Linked DNA regions of Homo sapiens: regions 2, 3, 4, 5 and 6 are each linked to region 1. The links come from fine-mapping of genetic effects on gene expression. A gene starts in region 1. Each other region holds a variant in brackets. All regions are shown on one strand. Distances are from middle to middle. Region 1 holds the start of KAT2B (lysine acetyltransferase 2B). Region 2 has its middle 150 kb from the start of EFHB. Region 3 overlaps KAT2B (lysine acetyltransferase 2B). Region 4 has its middle 17 kb from the start of SGO1-AS1. Region 5 overlaps KAT2B (lysine acetyltransferase 2B). Region 6 has its middle 85 kb from the start of EFHB.

The links.
Region 2: its variant is fine-mapped to the expression of KAT2B in whole blood (TOPMed, PIP above 0.99).
Region 3: its variant is fine-mapped to the expression of KAT2B in whole blood (TOPMed, PIP above 0.99).
Region 4: its variant is fine-mapped to the expression of KAT2B in whole blood (INTERVAL, PIP 0.99).
Region 5: its variant is fine-mapped to the expression of KAT2B in hypothalamus (GTEx, PIP 0.92).
Region 6: its variant is fine-mapped to the expression of KAT2B in CD4 T cells (CEDAR, PIP 0.92).

Annotation. Positions count from the first base shown.
Region 1 is chr3:20,037,897-20,041,987 of GRCh38, reverse strand. It overlaps KAT2B (lysine acetyltransferase 2B), which reads right to left and starts at 1,542. Exons shown (of 18, transcript NM_003884.5): 1 at 1,208-1,542. The coding sequence starts at 1,510. RefSeq lists enhancers at 41-230, 947-1,917 and silencers at 1,081-1,140, 1,341-1,470, 1,641-2,280.
Region 2 is chr3:19,785,503-19,789,593 of GRCh38, reverse strand. No RefSeq gene overlaps it. Among named protein-coding and RNA genes, the nearest start is that of EFHB, 150 kb to the left of the region's middle. The variant C/T (reference allele first, on the strand shown) is at 2,069.
Region 3 is chr3:20,062,348-20,066,438 of GRCh38, reverse strand. The region is part of intron 1 of KAT2B (lysine acetyltransferase 2B); the gene reads right to left. Among named protein-coding and RNA genes, the nearest start is that of KAT2B, 24 kb to the right of the region's middle. The variant T/C (reference allele first, on the strand shown) is at 2,258.
Region 4 is chr3:20,155,401-20,159,491 of GRCh38, reverse strand. No RefSeq gene overlaps it. Among named protein-coding and RNA genes, the nearest start is that of SGO1-AS1, 17 kb to the left of the region's middle. The variant G/A (reference allele first, on the strand shown) is at 1,857.
Region 5 is chr3:20,087,645-20,091,735 of GRCh38, reverse strand. All of the region lies in intron 2 of KAT2B (lysine acetyltransferase 2B), which reads right to left. Among named protein-coding and RNA genes, the nearest start is that of MIR3135A, 48 kb to the left of the region's middle. The variant C/T (reference allele first, on the strand shown) is at 2,044.
Region 6 is chr3:19,846,996-19,851,086 of GRCh38, reverse strand. No RefSeq gene overlaps it. Among named protein-coding and RNA genes, the nearest start is that of EFHB, 85 kb to the left of the region's middle. The variant A/T (reference allele first, on the strand shown) is at 2,358.

The sequences.
Region 1 (4,091 bases):
CTTAACATAAACCTGAGCATATGGTGTGGAAAAAGAGCAAGCATAGACATTCCATTGTGACTGAGAAGCTCCTGCAAGTACCAAGAAGAGTATAACCTAGATGTTCTAGTAGAATAAATTATAGTTATGTCAAAATTCAGAAGTGGTCACTGCAGCTTGGTTGTGACAATCGGGAATCTGGAATCTGGGAACTTGACCCTCTTTACAGCAGGCAGGAAGAATACAGGGAGGTGTGAGTGTGTGTGAGTGTGTCTCTTCCCTGCCTCAGCCACAGGCCGCAGGAGCTGACAAGGCCAAGTCCCCGCCCCCCTCAGCTGTCACCCTGTCAAAACAAAGCCGCTGCTGACAGCGCAGGGCCAGCCTGCCCCGCGGCCTCGGGCAATCCTCCCACCTCGGGAACACAGCCTCCACATCTGGATCTGCAGCTGGAGGTGACAGGGTGCCTAAACTGGCATGGAGAGTGGGTAGCAAGAAATGGGTGTCCTCAAACTGAGCAGTAGCGCCCGCCGCGCTGGGCTGTCACTTTGCCAAATCCTGTTTACACCTCGAGCAGCTGGGACAGCGTTTTAACTAAACAAGTAATAATACAATAATGACAGGGCTGTCACCGCGCGCGGCAGTGCCTCCGCCCCCAGCCGAGGGCGCCAGGCACCACAAGACCCTCGCCTCGGACTCTGCCCACCTTCCCACCCCGCGCTTTCCTCCCCTTCGCTTTCCCAAAGCGCCAGGAGTCCGGGAGTCTTCTCCACCCCCACTCCTTGCACCCAGTTCCTCCCAGTGGGACACAGGAAGGGATCGATTGCAGAAGGGACCACTCAGTCCCCCAAAAGATTTTTCCTTGCCCCTGGGTCACCCGCCACATGGAGAGCACCGCTCCACTCCCGGGAAAGTGACTCCAGCGAGCTCCTACAGAGCAACAAAACCCCAAGGTAGCCCGGGAGCTCGGATGCCGAAGCTACTCCTTTCAAGCGGAAGGAATGAAGGGCTCTCCGTCTTAGTGATCCCCCTTCTTCAAACCCAGCAGGACTCTTATCCAAGAAGAAGCTAATTGGGCGCGGGCGACAAGAGCACTTCCGCGGTGCAGCGGCCCCAGGCGGGAGGCGAGAGGCAGGAGGCGGGAGGCGGAGGTGGAAGCGGGAGGGGGAGGGGGGTCCCGCGGGCTGGGCCCCTAGCACCCATCCGCGGTCCGAGAGCGGCGAGCGCGTACCTTGCAGGCGGAGTACACTCCGAGTTTCTCCAGTTTCTTGGCCCGCGGAGCGGAGCGTAGTTGCGCTTTCTTCACGGCGATTCGGGCCGAGCCACCGCCTCCCGGTCCTTCGGCCGTGCCCGCTGCAGCCACTGCCGTCGCCGGACCGCAGGCGCCCGAGCCCCCGGCGGCAGCGGCGCAGGGGGAGCCCTGCGGGGGCGCGGGCGGAAGCGCCGCAGGCTGCGGGGGCAGCGCCCCGGGCCCGGCCCCTGCCCCGGCTCCTGCCCCGCAGCCGCCCGGCCCGGCCCCGCCAGCCTCGGACATGCCGCCCCGGAGCACGGCAGGAGGCGCCGAGTGTCAGGCGCCGCCGCCGCCGCCAGGGTCTCCCTCTCGGGCTCTGGTAGTCGGGAGAGCGAGACCCTCCCCCCACGCCCTCCCGCCCCCTTCGCCCACCCCCCTCCCCGCCCCCGCCCTCCCCCTAGCGCGCCGCTCGCCCGGCTCGCTCTGGCCGGGCCCCGCGCGCTGATGGTGGTGGCGGCGGCGGCAGCGGCGGCAGCTGCTCCCCCAGGAGGGAGGGGACTAGCGGCTCCGCTGCCGCTGCCGCCGCCGCCACAGCACACGCCCTCCCTTGGTTCTCCTGCCCGGGACTCTGCTCCGCGCCCTGGCTGCGGACATGTTCCTCGGGACTGCGGACTAGGTGTGCGTGCCGGCGGCTGCCAGCCTCACGGTGTCTGCCAGCGCTGGGAGGCCCCCCACGGCCTCTTTTCCGCTGCCCGCGGGGTTTGCACCCCCCACCCCAGTGCTTCGACACCTACCGCTCGCCCGCCAGGGGGCGAGGCCAATCCCTGGGTGTGGGTGAGGGTGGGGACGAGGGTGGGGGTAGGGGCCTGGAGCCCAGGCACCTGCTGGCCACCTCCCCCCTCCGCGGCCCCCCATCCGACCCCCGCACGCCTGCACCAGTGGGAGGGGGCAGCCTCTCAATCATTTGTCCTTTCACTCTCTTCCACCCTGTCTCTGACAGAGAGACAACTTCCTCCACCCTAGCGGGAGCCAGAGGAAAAAAAATATATTTTTGAAAAGTACCCGTCCATGCTAATCTTTTTCTTTGTTGCTAATTCACCAAAATAAAGACGTGATGTTCTCCCTTTCTCTTTTTAAATACTTTCTGTCAAACTATTTTTTAATATAATTAACACTTTCTTCCCATAGCAATTTCTGGGTCAAATCTGCCGGAGGAGGGGAAAAAAACTTACTATTCTCTGTAATTTTTGTTTGAAAGTGCTGGTTGCTAAAAGAAAGATTGTCTAAAAAGCATTGTCAAAAACTATGCAGTGGAAAAAGTTTGAATACAAAAAGTTTGTTAACAGGATTCGTTTCTGGGTGGTGGTTCTATAACGTTACGTAGTTTTCAAAATTGTGCCACCGCGTGCGTATTAACCAGGAAAAAGATATAAGCATAATTCAAAAGAATAAATATCGATTTTGGCCTCAAACTTTAAAAAGAAAAAAAAAACCCTCAACTCAGTGTTTCCAACTCTTGTTGAAAACTGTTGTTTTCACTGTTGATGACTGTGGAGCATACAAGTCAGTGCTGCGTTTGAAAGTGGTGTACCGTTGATCGCCTTCTTAAGCAGGTTTTAAAAGCCCAGGGCTTTTTCTCAGGACCCTTCAGAAGTGCCCTACTTTTTGTTATATGCAATGTGGGTCATAATGTGCTTATTATCAGATTTTATGCATGCTGTATAGCTCTCAGGCCAGACGCTTTAAGGGGTGTGCTTTTCGTGGGAAACATTCCCCTTCTTCTTTTTCCAGATTCTCTGTGTTATTTTGACTTGTAATGCAGGTTAATATATAAACATTGGGAGGTGGGGGAGTTTGTAGATCTAAACAGTGATATTAGCTTAGACAGGGCAAAAGGCAATATTCTCTCCCAACTTGAGTCCAGTCTTGAGGGGATGAAATGGCAGATTCTTATCAGGTTCCATTCAGGACAATTAATTTCAGTGCTTCCTTTCTTAGCTTGACGTGCTTCACGTTACCAGTGTTACTCTCTCCTGGCTCTGCTGAGATGTTTCGCAGATTTTTGCCATTCTCCGCAAAGCAGGGTGAGAGTCTTAAAGGCTGTGCTTCTCTGATCAACCTCTAACATGGATTTAACAGATACTAATAAGAGCTTGGGTTCCACCTTGCAGGCATTTGTCAAACTGATGGAATGATCCACTTGAGATCTGTACATTTCACTGGATATAAATGTTGCCTCAAAAATTTTTAAAAAAAGAAAAATCACAAGCATTGAACTCTAATGGTGCTCTTTGTACTTTGAGATACATCAAAAATAAGATGTATGGATGCCTCCATGCATGGGTAAAGGGTGGATGAACAGAGATATGATAAAGCAAATAGGGGTCCATATAATAGAGTCTAGGTAATGGGCACAGTGCGCAATTCTTTCAACTTTTCTGTATGTTTGAAAATTTTCACAGTGACAATTGGGGGAGGGAACCCAGATTTAACATTAAGTCACCTATCAACTCCTCCTCCCAAGCGTCCCTCAGAATTCAGGAGGCAGACAATTTCCAGGATGTTTTGAAGCAGAAGTAGCCAATCTCCTTTCAATCCACTCTGAAAACCATCACTGTCTGAGTGGCGAATGGCTTGTGCCATTAACTGAACATTATTTTTCATTATTTCCCTGCTCAGAGTACCCAGATGACATACTGCCTTAGGCTGAAGGCCCGTGGTTTCAAGACCTATTCAAAGTGTGTTATGAGCACCAGGCAAGGAAATTTCAAGGGCAAAGGATTCAGGAGGCTTATTGCTTTTCCATAATTAGGTTGTTGTAAGCATTCAGTGTGCTCTTTCTGTGCACACAGTACTTTTAAGAAATAACTACCAAGAAAATAAA
Region 2 (4,091 bases), 250 kb after region 1:
CTCAACTCTTAACTGCCAAGCTTTACACCTATCCTCCAGGGAAGTCTAATTCAGAGCAAACTCATGCTACTCTAATATTTAGCTTCTTTTTATCTTCTAGCACCTAGGGATTTCTCTTTCCTGTAAAGCTAAATTAAAAAAAAGAAAGAAGAAGAAAAAAAAAAACCTAAGGATGGTTATGTTTTATGTAGCACTTCTAGACTTTTTGTTGGTAGGAAGAGTTTAAATACTATTTTAGTCCATTTTTTTTGAATCTCCAATTTCTGTGAACATTATGGAAGTATGTGAGTAGTGTATTTTTTTTCCTAACCACTAGACAACCAGGGAATGTGACTAATGTAAATCTCTTCTCCTTATCTTCTTAAAATCTTTTAATAAAACCTGATTTCTTACTATTGTCTTGTGCAGTGCTGAGTTCTGTTTACTGGTGAGGGTGAAGTCAAAATTTTCCTAAAGAAAACTAGGTGCATACAGATGACAGGCAGATGTCTGGAGAGCTAAATGCTGAAGTGATATATCACTCAAGACTCTTACAGAAGTGTCCTAAAACTTTCTAGATGATTTGAAAACAATATATCTTCATTGAGGTCTCATGACATTTCTTAAAAATGTCCTATTGAGCTTTTTGATGTGCTGCTGGATTTGGTTTGCCAGTATTTTATTGAGGATTTTTGCATCAATGTTCATCAGGGATATTGGTCTAAAATTCTCTTTTTTTTGTTGTGTCTCTGCCAGGCATTGGTGTCAGGATGATGCTGGCCTCATAAAATGAGTTAGGGAGGATTCCCTCTTTTTCTATTGATTGGAATAGTTTCAGAAGGAATGGTACCAGCCCCTCCTTGTACCTCTGGTAGAATTCGGCTGTGAATCCGTCTGGTCCTAGACTTTTTTTGGTTAGTAGGCTATTAATTATTGCCTCAATTTCAGAGCCTGTTATTGGTCTATTCAGGGATTCAACTTCTTCCTGGTTTAGTCTTGGGAGAGTGTATGTGTCCAGGAACTTATCCATTTCTTCTAGATTTTCTAGTTTATTTGTGTAGAGGTGTTTATAGTATTCTCTGATGGTAGTTTGTATTTCTGTGGGATCGGTGGTGATATCCCCTTTATCATTTTTTATTGCATCTATTTGATTCTTCTCTCTTTTCTTCATTAGTCTTGCTAGCGGTCTATCAATTTTGTTGATCTTTTCAAAAAACCAGCTCCTGGATTCCTTGATTTTTTTGAAGGGTTTCTTGTGTCTCTATCTCCTTCAGTTCTTCTCTGATCTTAGTTATTTCTTGCCTTCTGCTAGCTTTTGAATGTGTTTGCTCTTGCTTCTCTAGTTCTTTTAATTGTGATGTTAGGGTGTCAATTTTAGATCTTTCCTGCTTTCTCTTGTGGGCATTTAGTGCTATAAATTTCCCTCTACACACTGCTTTAAATGTGTCCCAGAGATTCTGGTATGTTGTGTCTTTATTCTCATTGGTTTCAAAGAACATCTTTATTTCTGCCTTCATTTCGTTATGTACCCAGTAGTCATTGAGGAGCAGGTTGTTCAGTTTCCATGTGGTTGAGCAGTTTTGAGTGAGTTTCTTAATCCTGATTTCTAGTTTGATTGCACTGTGGTCTGGGTGCAGCACACCAACATGGTGCATGTATACATATGTAACAAACCTGCACATTGTGCACATGTACCCTAGAACTTAAAATATAATAATAATTTAAAAAGTCCTATTGAGGACATACTTTAAAAGTGGACTTCTGGTTATTTATTTTTTGTTTTAAAGTATTTTTAATTATTATGGGTACTGTATTAATTTGTTCTCACATTGCTGATAAAAACATACCTGAAACTGGGAGGAAAAAGAGGTTTAATTGGACTTACAGTTCTACATTGCTGGGGAGGCCTCAGAATCATGGTGGGAGGTGAAAGGCACTTTTTACATAGTGGGAAGAGAAAAAAATGGGAGGAAGCAAAAGCAAAAATCCCTGATAAACCCATCAGATCTCGTGAGACTTATTCATTATCATAAGAATAGCATGGGAAAGACTGGCCCCCATGATTCAACTACCTCCCCCTGGGTCCCTC[C/T]CACAACACGTGGGAATTCTGGGAGATACAATTCAAGATGAGATTTGGGTGGGGATACAGCCAAACCATATCATTCTGTCCTTGGCCCCTCCAAATCTCATGTCCACACATTTCAAAACCAATCACTCCTTCCCAACAGTCCCCCAAAGTCTTCATTCATTTCAGCATTAACCCAAAAGTCCACAGTTCAGAGTATCATCTGAGACAAGGCAAGTCCCTTCCACTTATGAGCCTGTAAAATCAGAAGCAAGCTAGTTACTTCCTAGGTACAATGCAGGTACAGGTATTGGGTAAATACAGCCATTCCACATGGGAGAAACTGGCCAAAACCTAGGGGTTACAGGGCCCATGCAAGTCTGAAATCCAGTGGGGCAGTCAAATTTTAAAGCTCCAAAATAATCTTCTTTGTATCCAGGTCTCACATCCAGGTCACATTGATGCAAGAGGTGGGTTCCCATGGTCTTGGACAGCTCTGCCCCTGTGGTTTGCAGGGTACAGCCTCCCTCCTGGCTGCTTTCACGGACTGGCGGTGAGTGTCTGCGGCGTTTCCAGGCACACAGTACAAGCTGTCAGTGGATCTGCCATTCTGGCCTCTGGAAGACGGTGGCCCTCTTCTCACAACTCCACTAGGCAGTGCCTCAGTAAGGACTCTGTGGGGGCTCCACCACCACATTTCCCTTCTGCACTGCCCTAGCAGAGGTTCTCCATGAGGGCCCCACCCCTGCAGCAAACTTTTGCCTGAGCAGCCAGGCGTTTCCTGGCCTGAAATCTAGGCAGAGGTTCCCAAACCTCAGTTCTTCTGTGCATCCACAGGCTCAATACTACATGGAGGCTGCCAAGACTTGGGGCTTCCATCCTCTGAAGCCACAGCCTGAGCTCCTCTACATTGGCCCCTTTCAGCCATGGCTGGAGTGGCTGGGACTCAGGGCACCAAGTCCCTAGGCTGCACACAACAGGGGGACCCTGGGCACAGCCCATGAAACCACTTTTTCCTACTGGGCTTCTGGGCCTGTGAAGGGAGGGGCTTCCATGAAGGTCTCTGACATGGCCTGGAGACATTTTCCCCATGGTCTTGGGGATTAACATTAGGCTCCTTGCTGCTTATGCAGATTTCTGCAATCGGATTGAATTTCTCCTCAAAAAATGGGTTTTTCTTTTCTACTGCATTGTCATGCTACACATTTTCTGAACTTTTATGCTCTGTTCCCCATTTGTTTTGTTTTATTTTATTTTATTTTATTTTATTTTATTTTATTTTATTTTATTTTATTTTTTTGAGATGGAGTCTGGTTCTGTCGCCCAGGCTGGAGTGCAGTGGCGGGATCTCAGCTCACTGCAAGCTCTGCCTCTCGGGTTCATGCCATTCTCCTGCCTCAGCCTCCCAAGTAGCTGGGACCACAGGTGCCCGCCACCGTGCCCAGCTAATGTTTTGTATTTTTAGTAGAGACGGGGTTTCACCGTGTTAGCCAGGATGGTCTCAATCTCCTGACCTTGTGATCTGCCCACCTCGGCCTCTCAAAGTGCTGGGATTACAGGCATGAGCCACCGTGCCTAACCTTTGTTTCCCTTTTAAAACAGAATGCTTTTTAACAGCACCCAAGTCACATTTTGAATGCTTTGCTGCTTCGAAATTTCTTCTGCCAGGTACCCTAAATTATCTCTGTCAAAGTTTCACAAATCTCTAGGGCAGGGGCAAAATGCTGCCAGTCTCTTTGCTAAAACATAACAAGCCTCACCTTTGCTCCAGTTCCCAGCAAGTTGCTCATCTCCATCTGAGAACACCTCAGCCTGGACCTTATTGTTCATATCCCTATGAGCATTCTTGTCAAAGACATTCAACAAGTCTCTAGGAAGTTCCAAACTTTCCCACATTTTCCTGTCTTCTTCTGAGCTCTCCAAACTGTTCCAATCTTTGCCTGTTACCCAGTTCCAAAGTTGCTTCCACATTTTCAGGTATCTTTTCAGCAACACCCCACTCTACTGGTACCAATTTACTATATTAGTTTGTTCTCATGCTGCTGAT
Region 3 (4,091 bases), 24 kb before region 1:
GACAGAGTGAGACTGTCTCAAATAATAATAATAAATAAAGTTCATGTTCCCCTGGAACCTCAAAATGGGGCCATATTTGGAAATAGGTTCATTGCAGATGTGATCAGTTAAGGACATGCAGATGAAATTATCCTAAGCCCTAAAACCAATGACTGGCGTTTTCCTAAGAGAAAGAAGAAGGAGATTTGGAGACAGACACAGACAAACAGTAAAGAAGGCCAAGTGAAGATAGAAGCAGAGGCTGGATCTCACTATGAGACAGACCAGGGTCTCACTATAAGCCAAAGAATGCCAAGGATTGCCAAGCACCACCAGATGCTAGGAAGAGGCAAGGAAAGATTCTTCCCTACAGCCTTCAAAAGGAGTGTGGCCCAGATGACATCTTGATCTCAGACTTCTAGCCTCCAAAACTGTGAATAAAAAAAAAACTGTATTTGTTGTTTTAAGCCACATATTTTGTGGTTATTTGTTATGACAGGCCTAAGAAACTAATACACAGGACTACTAGAAAATGTTAAATAATACATGCGGCCTCCATATTACTATTGGATATTGGTGCACTAGACTATAAAGGGACTCCACCCCCAAGCCCCAGGTCTTCACTATGGACCCTAACAGTTTAAGCATAGAATAGTCTCAGCATCCCTAAGTGGTCCTAACTCTTTAAAGTTATACCCTATTGATATATATGAGAATCCCTTGAGTTTTCCTTACTTGTTTCAGTATTTTTTGCAGGATATGAAAATTGGTTCTTGCATGTGTGCATGCTCCATGGGACACCTAACAACCTAAGTGTACAAAATTTTTAATATATATGGGACTCGTTACTTGATTTGCTAAAAAGGACATACTGTGTCCTTTAAAAAACAGTCAATGCTCTTATCCTTGACTGCCAGCAAAGCATTTTCTGCCAAGTTTTCTGAGCTGCTGCTACCATGCCCTCCACTTTGGCCTTCATCTCCCCATTCCAATGTTCAGGCCTGGCCACTGTTCTTCGAGATAAGAGGTCTCCTTTCAAAACACCTTTCCCATGTCTCTCCTTAATTAGGCATGACAGCTGCTGTCTAAGGGAACTCCCAAGGGAGTTGGCCTTGCAGCTTTAATGAAGTACCAGCTGAAGGACAACCTTTTAGGGAGTGCACTGCCAAGCCAATTACTGTAGCAGCTAGCAACCTGGGCACAGGGAGGGGAAAGCTACCCAGATGACTTCATCCCCCCAAGAGCACATCTCTGCAGACATTGCAGAACCAAGAAAGAAGAAAAGGCCACTGCACTACTTTCAACAGGACTGGGATAATGTTTTCATCCCAACAGGATCCAGGGTTAGAGGTCAATAGTATGCAACCGATGTTGTTATAGTATGCAGAAACCAGGATGGATGATGAGAAAGAAGATAAACTGGATAAACAAGTAGTCACAACCCAGATTACAGACAGACAAGGGGTGGAGAGCTCACAGTTCACGCAGTGTTAATGAGTGAGATGGGTGTGAAGATATTTGAGTGGCATCCAGAGGAACAGGAGAAAGACAGCCAGCTGTCTAGCAAAATTCTGTCATGCTTAAAATATTGGAAAGTCGCATTTGTTGGAAAACTTAAATTAGTGTCAAGGATGTCCCACAGCAAGAACACGTTGATGGAAAATTTATTCAGTATAACTGATCCAACATTTATTTAGCACCCAAAATTAAAAATGTACATGTACTCTTATCTCACTCGATGTAAGTAAAGTATGAATTATTGCCATTATTAAAAGAGAAAGCTGAGGCTCTAGGTGATAAGAGACTTGCCTGGGGTTACTCATTCTACCCTGCAGATGCACAAAATGTGTCCAGGCAGGTAACTGGCACTGTGGTTGTGAGAGAGGAAGGACTCACTCTTATTCACTACCTCTCTGCTCCATGCTGGACAAAGTCATAATGTTTAAATGTCAAGGATCAAAACCGTAACTTCTCACCCAATAAGATCTCTCTAACCAAATATAGATAGGAGGAGTAAATTCTGGTGTTCTATCGCACAGCAGAGTGACTATAGTTAACAATAATATATTGCATATTACAAAATAGCTACAAGAGAGGATTTTGAATGTTCTCATCACAAAGAAATGACAAGTGATTGAGGTGATGAACATGCTAATTACACTGATTTGGCCATTACACAATGTATACATGTTTCAAAACACCACACTATGCCCCCATCAATATGTATAATTATTAGGTGTCAATTAAACACAAAATAAGTTCTTTTTTCAAAAGGAGC[T/C]GACAATAACAAATTATCAGGCATGTGAAAAATTGGAATCCTCATACAGTGTTTGTGGGATGTAACAAGGTACAACCACCTTGGAAAACAGTTTGCTAGCTTCTTATATACTAATGGAACAGAATAGATAGCCCAGAAATAAACCCTCACAGATAATGGTCAAATGATTTTGACAAGTGTGCCAAGACCATTCAATAGAGAAAGGACAGTCTTTTCAATAAATGGTGCTGGAAAAACTAGGTATCTGTGTGCACAAGAATGAAGCTGGACCCTTAGCTAATAACACACACACAAATGAACTCAAAATAGATGAAAGACTTCAACATAAAATTGTGAATCTCGGCCGGGCGTGGTGGCTCACGTCTGTAATCCCAGCACTTGGGGAGGCCGAAGCAGTTGGATCACGAGGTCAGGAGTTCAAGACCAGCCTGGCCAACATGGTGAAACCCTGTCACTACTAAAAATACAAAAATTAACCGGGCATGGTGGCTCACGTCTGTAATCCCAGCTACTTGGGAGGCTGAGGCAGGAGAATTGCTTGAACCTGGGAGGCAGAGGTTGCAGTGAGCTGAGATTGTGCCACTACATTCCAGCCTGGGCAACAGAGCAACCATCTCAAAAAAAAAAAAAAAAAAAAAAAAAAAAAAGAGGCCTACTCAGAAGTTGCTGTGAGGTGAGATCGCACCACTGCACTCCAGCCTGAGCAACAGGGCGAGACCCCATCTCAAAAGAAAAAAAAAGAAAGAAAGAAAGAATCTCTTAAAAGAAAATACAGAAAAAATCTTCATGATACTAGATCAGGCAATGGTGTCTTGGATATAATACCAAAAGCACAGGCGGCCAGGTGTGGTGGCTCAGGTGTATAATCCCAGCACGCTGGGAAGGTCAGGAGTTCAAGACCAGCCTGAGCAACAAACAAGACTCCATCTCTACAAAAATTTTAAAAATTAGCTGGACATAGTGGTGCACGCCTGCAGTCACAGCCACTCAGAAGGCTGAGGCAGGCAGATCCCTTGAGCCTAGGAATTCGAGGCAGCAATGGGCCATGACTGTGCCACTGTACTCCAGCCTGGGAAACAGAGCAAGATACTGTCTAAAAATAAATAACAAAAACACAGGCAACAAAAGAAAAACAGATAAACTGGAATTAGGAAAAACTTTAAATTTCTGTGCACCAAAAGACATACACAACAGAGTGAAAAGGCAACCCAGAGAATGGGAGAAAATATTTGCAAACCATATATTTGATAACAGGTTAATATCCAAAATATATAAAGAATGCCTACAACTCAACAACAACAACAACAACGAAATTTTACAATGGGCAAAGGACTTGAGCAGACACTTCTCCAAAGAAAATATACAAATGGTCAATAAACACATGAAAAGATGCTCAACATCATTAATAATTATGAAAATGGGCCAGGCACGGTGACTCACGCCTGTAATCCCAATACTTTGAGAGGCTGAGGCAGGTGGATCACCTGAGCTCAGGAATGCAAGACCAGTCTGGCAAACAAGGCGAAACCCCGTCTCTACTAAAAACACAAAAATTGGCTGGGCGTGGCGGCGCATGCCTGTAATCCCAGCTACTCGGGAAGCTGAGGCAAGAGAATCGCTTGAACCCAGGAGGCAGACGTTACAATGAGCCGAGATCATGCCACTGCACTCCAGCCTGGGTGACAGAGCAAAACTACCTCTAATATATATATATATAAAATAAAATATATATAATTTCTATATATTATATATTATATATAATAATATATAATATATAATATATAATTTATTATGTTATATATAATATATTATAAATTATATATAAAATATATTA
Region 4 (4,091 bases), 120 kb before region 1:
TCAATAAGTAAATTGTTGTAAGGATTCAGTGAGTTAGTACATATCAAATGCTTAGAAGAGTGCTTAACACTTACTAAGTGCTCGATAAGTGGTAGATTCCTGAGGAAATTACTTGGTTATGGGAATCTATGCAGCATCCACAGATTGACTATCTGCACTAAATTATTTCTGCTCATTCAAACCTACTTAGTACCAGTACAAATAAAACAATAGTCATATTAACAATACTTCAATACTGATTTAGGTGAAAAGCCTTTTTTAAATTTATAGTGTTAAGTTAAAATTTTTATATAGTGTTTTACATTCACTTGAGACCATCTTCACATACATTAAACACATCCTCACTATAGCTTTGAGCAGAAAAGCATGTGTCTATACTCAGGAGGCTGAGGCAGGAGAATGGCGTGGACCCGGGAAGTGGAGCTTGCAGTGAGCCGAGATCGCGCCACTGCACTCCAGTCTGGGCGACAGAGTGAGACTCTGTCAAAAAAAAAAAAGTGTCTGATGAGAAAAGACTCAAGATAATAAATATGGTGTTTCATCATAAAGGGTGTTGGGAAGTAGCATTTGTGCAAGAAGATACATGTAATAAGTAAAACAGAGAGTAATTAAAATTTATTCCAGCTTGGTATTATAGAAAAGGTGGGAAATGTAGCCTGGATCGGGATTGTTAGGTGAGTTCACATACACCTGCATGATCACACTCGAGTGATTTTGATCTTTAGCATCTTGCAAATTGGTATCCAGCATCATAATGGAAAGTTTCATCCTCTCCCTCATCCTGTTCAATATTTTTTTCAATAACATGAATATGAGAAAACATATAATTGACAAATTCGTAATTTATAAATGTAAATCTTAGAAGGAATAGGTAACAGTAAATATTGGAACTGGAATAAAAAATGCCTCACAGGTTAATACAAGGGTAGGGGGAACGTCCTATAAAATTAAGCCCACATCTACTTCTTGACCTAACAATTTCACTATTTGGTATTCACATAAGAGAAATGAAAGCATATGTTTACAAAAAGACCTACAAAAAAAATGTTTATAGCAGGCTTATTGTAAGACCCAAACGTAGAAACTACCCAAATGTCCACTAAACTTGAGAAGATAAACAAATCGTGGAATATTACAATAGTATACTCTTCAGCAATAAAAAGGAATGAACTTCTGATACATATTACAATGTGGATGAGCCAGACCCCAGGAAGTACAAACTGTGACCCCATTTATATGAAATCAAGTAACACAAAACGAATCTATGGTGACAAAAATCAGAAGTGGTTTTCTGGAGACAGGGAAGGAGAATTGACCTGAAAGGGGCACGAGGGAACTTTTCTTAGGTGATAAGAATGTCCTGTCTTTAGGGTCGTGATTATACTGGTGTAGACAATTGCCAAAAGTCATCAAACTTAGCACCTAAGACCTATGCTTTTTAATAGAGACAGGGTCTCACAATGTTTGGCCAGGCTGGTCTCAAACTCCTGGGCTCAAGCGATCCTCCTGCCTTGGCCTCCCAAAGTACTGGGATTATAGGCATGACCCACCACACCTGGCCTGACTGGTGCATTTTCTTGTATGTTAACTATACCTCAATTTTTAAAAATGTTTTTCGTTTTGAGATGGTGTTTCGCTCTTGTTGCCCAGGCTGGAGTGCAATGACGCAATCTCAGCTCACTGCAACCTCCACCTCCCAGTTTCAAGTGATTCTCCTGCCTCAGCCTCCCAAGTAGCTGGGATTACAGGCATGCGCCACCATGCCCGACTAATTTTGTATTTTCAGTAGAGACAGGGTTTCATCATGTTGGTCAGGCTGGTCTCAAACTCCTGACCTCAGGTGATCCACCTGCCTC[G/A]GCATCCCAAAGTGCTGGGATTACAGGCATGAGCGACTGTGCCCAGCCTAAAAATGTAGACAGGATCTTGAGTTGTGCACATAGCTACAACTGTACAAGTATGCTTGGGTGTGTTGAGGGATAGGAACAGTGCTGGCACACTAACTTAATAGTACTCTGTGGGAAACTTGAATTAGAGCTTGATCATAAACAGCTGACTTCAACCCAACCTACGGGCTTTCTTATAAAGCTTTGCCTGTCCCACTGATGGGCAGTACTATTGCATAAAAATGCAAATTTCCCATTCACAGATGTTTTTAAGTAGAAACTAGATGTCCATCTGTTAACAGCAGAAGATGGCAGGTTGACAGAGCAAAGATTTTTTTTTTTTTTTTTTTTTTTTTTGAGACAGTCTCGCTGTTACCCAAGCTGGAGTGCAGTGGTACAATCAAGGCTCACATAGCCTTGACCTCCTAGGCTAAGGTAATCCTCCCACCCCTCAACTTCCCAAGTAGCTGGGACCACCACTGTGCACCACCACACTCGGCTAAATGTTTTCTGTTTGTTTTTTTGATTGATAGAGATACGGTCTCACTACGTTGCCCAGGCTAGTGAGAGCAAAGATTCTTAAACTGGGGTTCACCAATGAACTTCAGGAGGGTCCAAGGACCAAGTGAACTGATATGCAGAAAGTGCACACATGTAAACATGTGCATTATTTTCAGAAGGTCCTTAGCCTCCAAGTTCTCCAGGATTTCTTTTAAAGAACTTCAAACCTAGATAAACTGAGACTGGTAACCCTTGGTTCAGCTCATAAAATTTAATACACATACCCAGAGTCATGTCAAATGAAGATCTTTGGACAACAATAGCCTGTGTATACTATGGTGGTCCCATAAGATTATAATACCATATTTTTACTGCACCTTTTCTATGTTTAGATACGTTTAGATACACAAATACTTACCATTGTGTTACAGTTGCCTACAGTATTCAGTACAGTAAAATGCTATACAGGTTTCTAGCCTAAGAGCCATAGGCCATACTATGGAGCTTCAGGACTGTGTAAGTACACTCTAGGATGCTCACACACCAACAAAATCACCTAACATTGCATCTCAGAAGGTATCCCCATCGTTAAGTGGTACATAACTGTATATAAATGTATATACATGTATATAAATACACACACACAAATTACACGTATCATTTCTCATCTTTTTCAACTCCTGATCCTGTGAAAGTTGTCGGACTTCCCAATAAGAAGAGGGAGCAGGAAGCTTGACTTTTAATTTTTCTCTGCTTTGTTGAAATAATACTGCTTTTTAATAAACCCAAAGAAAATCTCTAGCTTTGTCATTGTTAGCTTCCTTTTTCCACAAGTAAAGATGTTCCCATAAATAAATATATAAATATATATATTTGTATATTTATGTATTTATATATATATGAATTTACATATTTATATATAAATACATAAATATATACATAAATACATTAAAGAGGACCTTTCATAATGCTTATGGTTGTTTCCTCACTTCCTTATAGCATCTTTTTTTTACTTTGTTGAAGCTCTTCCTCCAGAGTATACCTGGAAATCTTTCATTTGCTCTTTTTGTCTCTTTAAATTCATTTTCAGCTCTTTACCTGAGACATTAGTAACATTGTTTTCATCCTGTCAATCTTCATCATCACTTATTGATAGCACTGATACACCCAAAGGAGAAAGTAAATACCACTTTAATACCAGCAGCTTTAAGACTCAGAACCATCTATTTCAGTCCCTGCCACCACCTTCCCTGTCCACCCTCCACTACCCCCTACACAGATACCTTTTTTCTGCCAGGAAAAAATGTCTGAATGGTCAAGAATTGTAAACCTATATTTCAACAGATGAAAAAAGTATCAACCTAATTACTACCTCTTAAGTAAGAACTTGCAACCATTTCTGACCTTTGATATTCCAGAATAGCTGATTGCTTTTCTTTGGCATTTTCACTTTGCTAAGAGGAGAATGCTAGTTAAGGGATAGAGCAGAATAGCTCTAACGACAAGAGCTGCCACCAGTTACCCTTCCTTGTGCGGCACTTAGAATCCTTTTAAATAAACACTGAGGGTTAGTCTAAAGAATATTAGCTTAAAGGGGTGACAAATAATTAACTGGTCCACAGTACCTCAGTCTGATCTTGTTTCTACTTCTTAGTTTCTGAAAATATAAATTGTTCGTCCAGGTAAAATGAAAACCTCAAAGTCTCC
Region 5 (4,091 bases), 50 kb before region 1:
CTTAAAAGGGAAATTTAAAAATATCTTAAGACAAACAGAAGTGGAAATACAATATACCAAAACTTACAAAATGCAGCAAAAGCAGTTCTAAGAAAGAAGCTTATGGCAATAAATGCCTATATTAAAAAAGAAAAAAGATCTCAAATGAACAACCTAATGTTACACCTCAAAGAACTAGACAAAGAAGAACGAACTAAAGTCCAAAGTTAGTAGAAAGAGTAAACAAAAAAGATCAGAGCAGAAATAAATGGAAACAAGAAAAACAATAGAAAAGATCAACAAAACTAAAAGTTGGTTCTTTGAAAAGATAAAAAAAATGGACAAACTTTTAGCTGGACTACAAAAGAAATAAAAGAGAAGACTCAAAATAAGAAATGAAAAAGGAGACATTATAACTGATACCACAGAAATACAAAGGATTATAAGAGATTATGATGAACAGTTATGTCAATAAATTGGATAATCTAAAAGAAATGGGTAAATTCCTGAAAATGTACAACCTACCAAAACTAAATCATGAAAATATAGAAAATCTGAACAAACTAATAACAAGTAAGGAGACTGAATCAGTAATTAAATAAAAAATCTTCCATCATGGAAAAGCCCAGGACCTGATGGCTTCAAGGCTGAATTCTACCAAACACTTTAAAAAGAACTAATACTAATTCTCAAACTCTTCAAAAAGCCCAAGTGCAGTGGCTCATGCCTATAATCCCAGCACTTCAGGAGGCTGAGGTAGGAGAAATGCTTAAGCCTAGGAGTTCAAGACAAGCCTGCACAACATAGTGAGACCCTGTTTCTACAAAAAATAAAAATAAATAAATAAAAATTAGGCAGGTGTGGTGTCACATGCCTGTAGTCCCAGCTACTCAGGAGGCTGAGGTTGGAGGATTGCTTGAACCCACCCCACAAGATTGAGGTTGCAGTGACCCATGCTTGTGCCACTATACTCCAGCCTTTATGACAAAGTGAAACTCTAAAAAAAAACTTCAAAAAACTGAAGAGGGATGCATACTTCCAAACTCACTTTACAAGGTCAGCATTATACTAATACCAAAGCCAGACAAGGAAACTACAAGAAAAGAATATTACAGGCCAATATCCCTGATGAACATGGATGCAAAAATACACAACAGAAAACCAGCAATCTGAATTCAACAGCAGATTAAAAGAATCCTTCACCACGAGCAAGAGGAATTAATCCCAGGGATGCAAGGATGGTTCAGCAATAAATTGATACAGCAAATTAACAGAATGAAGGAGAAAAATCATATGGTAATCTCTAAAGATACAGAAAAAGCATTTGACAAAATTCAACATCCTTTCATGATAAAAACTCTCAACAAATTAGGCATAGAGGGAATGTGCTGTACCTCAACACAAAAAGGCCGTATGTGACAAACCCACAATTAACATCACACTCAATGGTGAGAAGCTGAAAGCTTTTCCTTTAAGATTAAGAACAAGAAAAATATACCCACCCTTGCCACTTCTTTTCAACGTAGTATTGGAAGTCCTAGCCAAAGCAATTAAGTAAGAAAAAGAAATGAAAGTATCCAAATCAGAAAAGAAGAAGTTAAATTGTCTCTGCAGATAACATAATTTTATAAACAGAAAACCCTAAAGACACCACCAAAAAGCTTTTAAAACTAATAAACAAACTCAGTAAAGTTGCAGGATACAAAATCAACACACAAAGATCAGTACCATTCGTTTTTTTTTTTCTTGTTTTGTTTTTTTGTTTGTTTGTTTTTTAATAGAGATGGCTTCTCACTATGTTGTCCAAGCTGTTCTTCTCAAATTCTGGGCTCAAGCAATCCTTCCACCTCCTAAAGCATTGGGATTACAGGCAAGAGTAACCATGCCCAGCCATGTTTCTGTATACTAACAACAAACTATCAAAACAAAACAAAAAATCAAGGAAACAATCTCATTTATAACAGCATCAAAAACAATCAAATACCTAGGAATAAATTTAGCCAAGGAGATGAAAGATATGTACACTGCAAACTATAAAACACTGATGAAAGAAAGTAGGCCAGG[C/T]GCAGTGGCTCACACTGGGAGTCCCAGCACTTTGGGAGGCTGAGGCAGGCAAATCACAAGGTCAGGAGCTTGAGACCAGCCTGGCTAATATGGTGAAAACCCATCTCCACTAAAGATAAAAAAAATTAGCCGGGCATGGTGGCGCACGCCTGTAATCTCAGCTACTCAGGAGGCTGAGGCAGAAGAATCACTTGAACCTGGGAGGCAGAGGTTGCAGTGAGCTGAGATTGCGCCATTGCACTCCAGTTTGGGTGACAAGGTGAGACTCCATCTCAAAAAAAAAAAAAAAAAAAGTGAAGAAGACACGAATAAGTGATAAGATATCTTTTATGTTCACAGATTGGAAGAATTAATACTGTTAAAATGTCCATATTACCCAAAGTGATCTACAGATTCAATGCAATCCCTATCAAAATTCCAATGACATTTTTCACAGAAATAGAAAAAATAATCTTAAAATCTGTACAGAACTACATAAGACTCCAAATAGCCAAAGCAATCTTGAGCAAAAAGAACAAAGGCAGAGTCATCACACTACACTTGATTTCAAAATCTACTACAAAGCTATCTCAATCAAAACAAAATGCTACCAACATAAAAAACAAATACATAGACCAACTGAACAGAATAGACAGCCCAGAAATCTATCCATTTACAGTCAACTGATTTTCAACAAAGATGCCAAGGGGAAGGGACAGTCTCTTCAATAAATGCTGTTGGGACAACCGGATATCCACATGCAAAAGAATGAAATTAGACCCTTATCTCATACCATATACAAAAACCTATTCAAAATGGACTAAAGACTTAAATATAGACCTGAAACTGTAAAACTACTAGAAGGAAACATAGGAAAAAGCTTCTTGACATTGGTCTTCGCAAAGATTTTTTGAATATGATCAAAAAGCACAGGCAACAAAACAAAAATAGACAAACTGGATTGCATCAAACTAAAAAGCTTCTATATAGGAAAAGAAACAATCAACAGAGTAAAGAGACAACCTATGGAATGGAAGAGAACATTTTCACACCATACATTTGATGAAGCTAATATCCAAAATATATAAGGAACTTATACAACTCAATGGTAAGAAAACAACCCAATTTTAAAATGTGCAAAGGATATGAACAGACATTTCTCAAAAGAAGACATACAAATGGCCAACAGGTATATGGAAAAATGTTCAACATCACTAATCAGAGAAATGCAAATTAAAATCACAATGAGATATCACTTCACGCTCAGGATAGCTATTATCAAAAAGATGAAAGATGAGTGTTGGCAAGAATGTGAGGACAAGGAACCCTTGCACACTGTTGGTGGGAATGTAAATTAGTACAGCCAGTATGGTAAACCATATGGATATGTCTCAAAAAATCCAAAACAGAACTACCATATGACCTGACCCAGCAATTCCACTTCTGGATATATATCCAAAGAAAAGGAAATCAGTATGTCAAAAAGACATCTGCATTCCCATATTCACTGCAGCATTATTCACAATAGCCAAAATATGGAATTTACCTAAGTGTCCACCCCAACAAATGAATGGATAAAGAGAATGTAGTATATGAACACAATCAAATACTATTCAGCCTTAAAAACTAAGGAAATGGCCAGGCACAGTGGCTCACACCTGTAATCCTAGCACTTTGGAAGGCTGAAGTAGGAGGACTGCTTGAGCCCAGTTCAAGACCAGCCTTGGTAAGATGGCAAGACCCTGTCTCTACAAAAAAAAATTTTTTTTTAATTAGCTAGGTATGGTGGCTCAGATCTGTAGCCCTAGTTACTTAGCAACCTAAGGCAAGAGGATCCCTTGAGCCCAGGAGTTTGAGGCTACAGTGAACTATGATTGTACCACTGCATTCTGGCCTGGACAACAAAGTGAGAGCCTGTCTTAAGGCTAAGTGAAATAAGCCAGGCACAGAAAGACAAATACTGCATGATCTTATTTGTATGTAGAATCTTAAAAAGTCAGAATCACAGAAGCAGAAAGTAAAATGATGGTTATTAGGGACTTGGAACGTGAGGTACGGGTAGAGATGCT
Region 6 (4,091 bases), 190 kb after region 1:
TTTTTGTTTGTTTTGTTTTTTTGTTGTTGTTGTTACATCCCTTCCTGGTCTTGGTATTAGGATAATATGGGTTTATATAATGATTTAGGGAGGATTCTCCCTCTATTTTTTGGAATAGTTTCAGTAGTACCACCTCTTCCTTGATTGTCTGATTGAATTCAGCTGTGAATCCATCTGGCCCTGGACTTTCTTTTGTTGGCAGTTTTTTTTTTTTTTTTTCAATCTCATTGCTTGTTATTGGTCTGTTGAGAGTTTCTATTTCTTCCTGGCTTAATTTAGGAGGTTTGTACATTTCCAGGAATTTATCCATCACCTCTAGGTTTTCTAGTTTGTGTGCATAAAGGTATTCATAGTAGCTTTGAATGATCTTTTGTGTTTCTGTGGTATCAGTTGTAGTACCTCCAGTTTCATTTCTAATAAAGTTTATTTGGCTCTTCTCTCTTCTTTTCTTGGTTAATGTTGCTAATGATCTATCAGTTTTATTTATCTTTTCAAGGAAGTAGCTTTTCATTTCTTTTATCTCTTGTATTGTTTGTTTTGTTTCAATTTTATTTATTTCTGCTTTGATGTTTATTTTCTTCTGCTGTGTTTGGGTTTGGTTTGTCCTTGTTTCTCTAGTTCCCTGAGGTGTGACCTTAGCTTGTCTATTTGTGCTCTTTCAGACTTTTTGATGTAGGCATTTAATGCTATGAACTTTCCTCTTAGCGCTGCTTTTGCTGTATTGCAGAGGTTTTGATAGATTGTGTCACTATCATCGTTCAGTTCAAAGAATTTTTAAATTTTCATCTTGATTTCATTGCTGACCCAAACATCATTCATGAACAGATCATTTAATTTCCATGTATTTTCCTGATTTTGAGGGTTCCTTTTGAAGTTGATTTCCAATTTTATTCCACTGTGGTCTGAGGGAGTACTTGATATAATTTTGATTTTCTTAAATTTATTAAGGTTTGTTCTGTGGCCTATGATATCATGTATCTTGGAGAATATTCCATGTGCTGATGAATAGAAGATACATTCTGCAGTTGTTGGGTAAAATGTTCTGTAAATATCTGTTAAGTCCATTTTTTCTAGGGTATAGTTTAAGTCCATTTGTTCTTTGTTCACTTTCTGTCTTTATGAACTGTCTAGTGCTGTCAGTGGAGCATTGAAGTCCCTCCACTATTATTGTGTTGCTGTCTATCTTATTTCTTAGGTCTAGTAGTAATTGCTTTACAAATTTGGGAGCTTCAGTGTTAGATGCATATATGTTTTATTAATTTGGACGCTCTAGTGTTAGGTGAAAGATTATGATATTTTCCTGTTGAACTAGTCCTTTTATCATTATATTTGTCTTTTTTAACTGTTGCTGCTTTTTAATTTTTTAATTTTTTTTTGTTTTTTAACTGTTATTGCTTTGAAGTCTGTTTTGTCTGACATTGACATTAACATTTAACTGTTATTGCTTTGAAGTCTGTTTTGTCTGACATTGACTAGCTACTCCTTCTCACTCTTGGTGTCCATTTGCATGGAATATCTTTTCCTCCCCTTTCTCTTACGTTTATGTGAGTCATGTGTTAGGTGAGTCTCTGGAAGAAAGCAGATACTTGGTTGGTGAATTCTTATCCATTTTGCCATTCTATATCTTTTAAGTGGCTCATTTAAGCCATTTCCATTCAATGTTAGTATTGAGATTTGAGATACTATTCTATTCATCATGCTAGTTGTTGTTTGAACATTTTGTTTTTCTTTTTCCATTGTGTTATGTTTTATAGGCCCTGTGAGATTTATGCTTTAAGGAAGTTTTATTTTGGTGTGTTTTGAGCTTTTCTTTCAAGATTTGGAATTCTTTTATCATTTCTTGTAGTGGTGACTTGGTAGTGGTGAATTCTCTCAGCATTCGTTTTTCTGAAAAAGACTTTATTCCTCCTTTATTTATGAAGCTTAGTTTTGCTGGATATGACATTCTTGGCTGATAATTATTTTGTTTAAGGTGGCTAAAGATAGAACGCCAATCCGTTCTAGCTTGTAGGGTTTCTGCCGAGAAATCTGCTGTTAATCTGATAGGTTCCCCTTTATAGGTTACCTGATGCTTTTGCCTCACAGCTGTTAAGGCTCTTTCTTTTATGTTTACCTTAGATAGCCTGATGACTATGCCTAGGTGATAATCTTTTTGTGATGAATTACCCAGGTGTTCTTTGAACTTCTTGTATTTGGATGTCTAGACCTGTAACAAGGCCAGGGAAGGTTTCCTTAATTATTCCCTCAAAGACATTTCCCAAACTTTTAGATTTCTTTTCTTCCTCAGGAACACCAATTATTCTTAGATTTAGTTGTTTAACATAATTCCACACTTCTTAGAGGCTTTGCTCATTTTT[A/T]AAAAAAATTCCTCTTTTTTTGGCTTTGTCAGATTGGATTAATTTAAAAGCCATGTCTTTGAGCTCTGAAATTCTTTCTTCTATTTGTTGGCTTGTATTCTTGAAACTTTCCAGTATATTTTGCCTTTCTCTAAGTGTGTCTTTCATTTCCAGAAGTTGTGATTGTTTTCTATTTATAATATCTATTTCTCTGGAGATTTTTCATCCATATCCTGTATTATTTTTTAATTTTTTTTGAGACAGAGTCTCACTCTGTCACCCAGGTTGGAGTGCAATCTTGGCTCACTGCAGCCTCCACCTCCTGGGTTCAAGTGATTCTCCTGCCTTAGCCTCCTGAGTAGCTGAGATTACAGCACCTGCCACCATAGCCAGCTGATTATTGTATTTTTAGTAGAGACGGGGTTTCACTATGTTGACCATGCTGGTCTTGAACTCCTGACTTCAGGTGATTCACCCACCTCGGCCTCCCAGTGTGCTCGAATTACAGGCATGAGCCACTGTGCCCAGCCAGCTTTTTTGTTCATTTCTGTTTATTGATGAATAACATTCCATTGTCTGGATGTACCACATTTTCACCTATTGAAGGCTATCTTTGTTGCTTCCAATTTTTAAAAGAATGTTAAATAACATTATATTTACTACAGAACATTCATTCATATTATATTTTATAATATTAAAGAATATTTTGTTTCTTTATGTAATATTTTAATTTTTTTCATTGACAACCATTGTACATATTCATGGTAAACATAGTGATATTTCAATGCATATAATGTACAGTAATCAGATCAGAGTAATTAGCATATTTATCATCTCAAACATTTATCATTTCTTTGTTTTGGCAATGTTCAATGTTCTACTTGTAGCTATTTGAAACTACATAATAATGTATTGTTACCTATAGTAATTCAGTGGAATAGAACACTGAAACTTATTCCTCCTATCTCACTGTAATCGTATCCCTGAAAAACTTCTCCCTATCCCTCCCTTCTCCCTACTCTTCCCAAACTCTAGTATCCTCTGTTCTACTTTTAACTTACATGAAATCAACCTTTTTAAGCTTCCATACATAGGTAAAAATATGCAGTGTTCAATTTTCTGTTTCTAGGTAATGATGATGTTGATGATGATAATGATAATGATGATGATGATGATTATTATTATTATTATTTAAGACAGGACCTCACTCTGTCCCTCAGGCCAGAGTACAGGGGTGTGATTATGGCTCACTGTAGCCTCAACCTTCTGGGTTTAAACAGTCCTCATACTTTAGCCTCCTGAGTAGATAGGACTATAGGCATGCACCACCAGGCCTGGCCACCCTGTCGTTTGTAGAGACAGGGTCTTCCTCTGTTGCCCAGGCTGGTCTCAAATTCCTGGGCTCAAGTGATCCTCCCACCTTGACCTCTGAAAGTGCTGGGATTACAGATATGAGCCGCTGTGTCTGGCCTTATTACTTTACAGGCCCATCTGTCTCAGTATTTCTGGCTTATTTGACTTAACATAATATCCTCCAGTTCCATCCATATTGCCATGAATGACAGGATTTTATTCTTTTTTTTTTATGGTGGAATAGTATTCAATTGTGTATGTGTATATATATACCACTTTAAAAAATCCATTTGGTCTAGATTCCTCCTCTCTGGGCAGGGCATCTCTGAAAGAAAGGCAGCAGCCCGAGTCAGGGGCTTTTAGATAAAACTGCCATCTCCCTGGGACAGAGCACCTGGATGA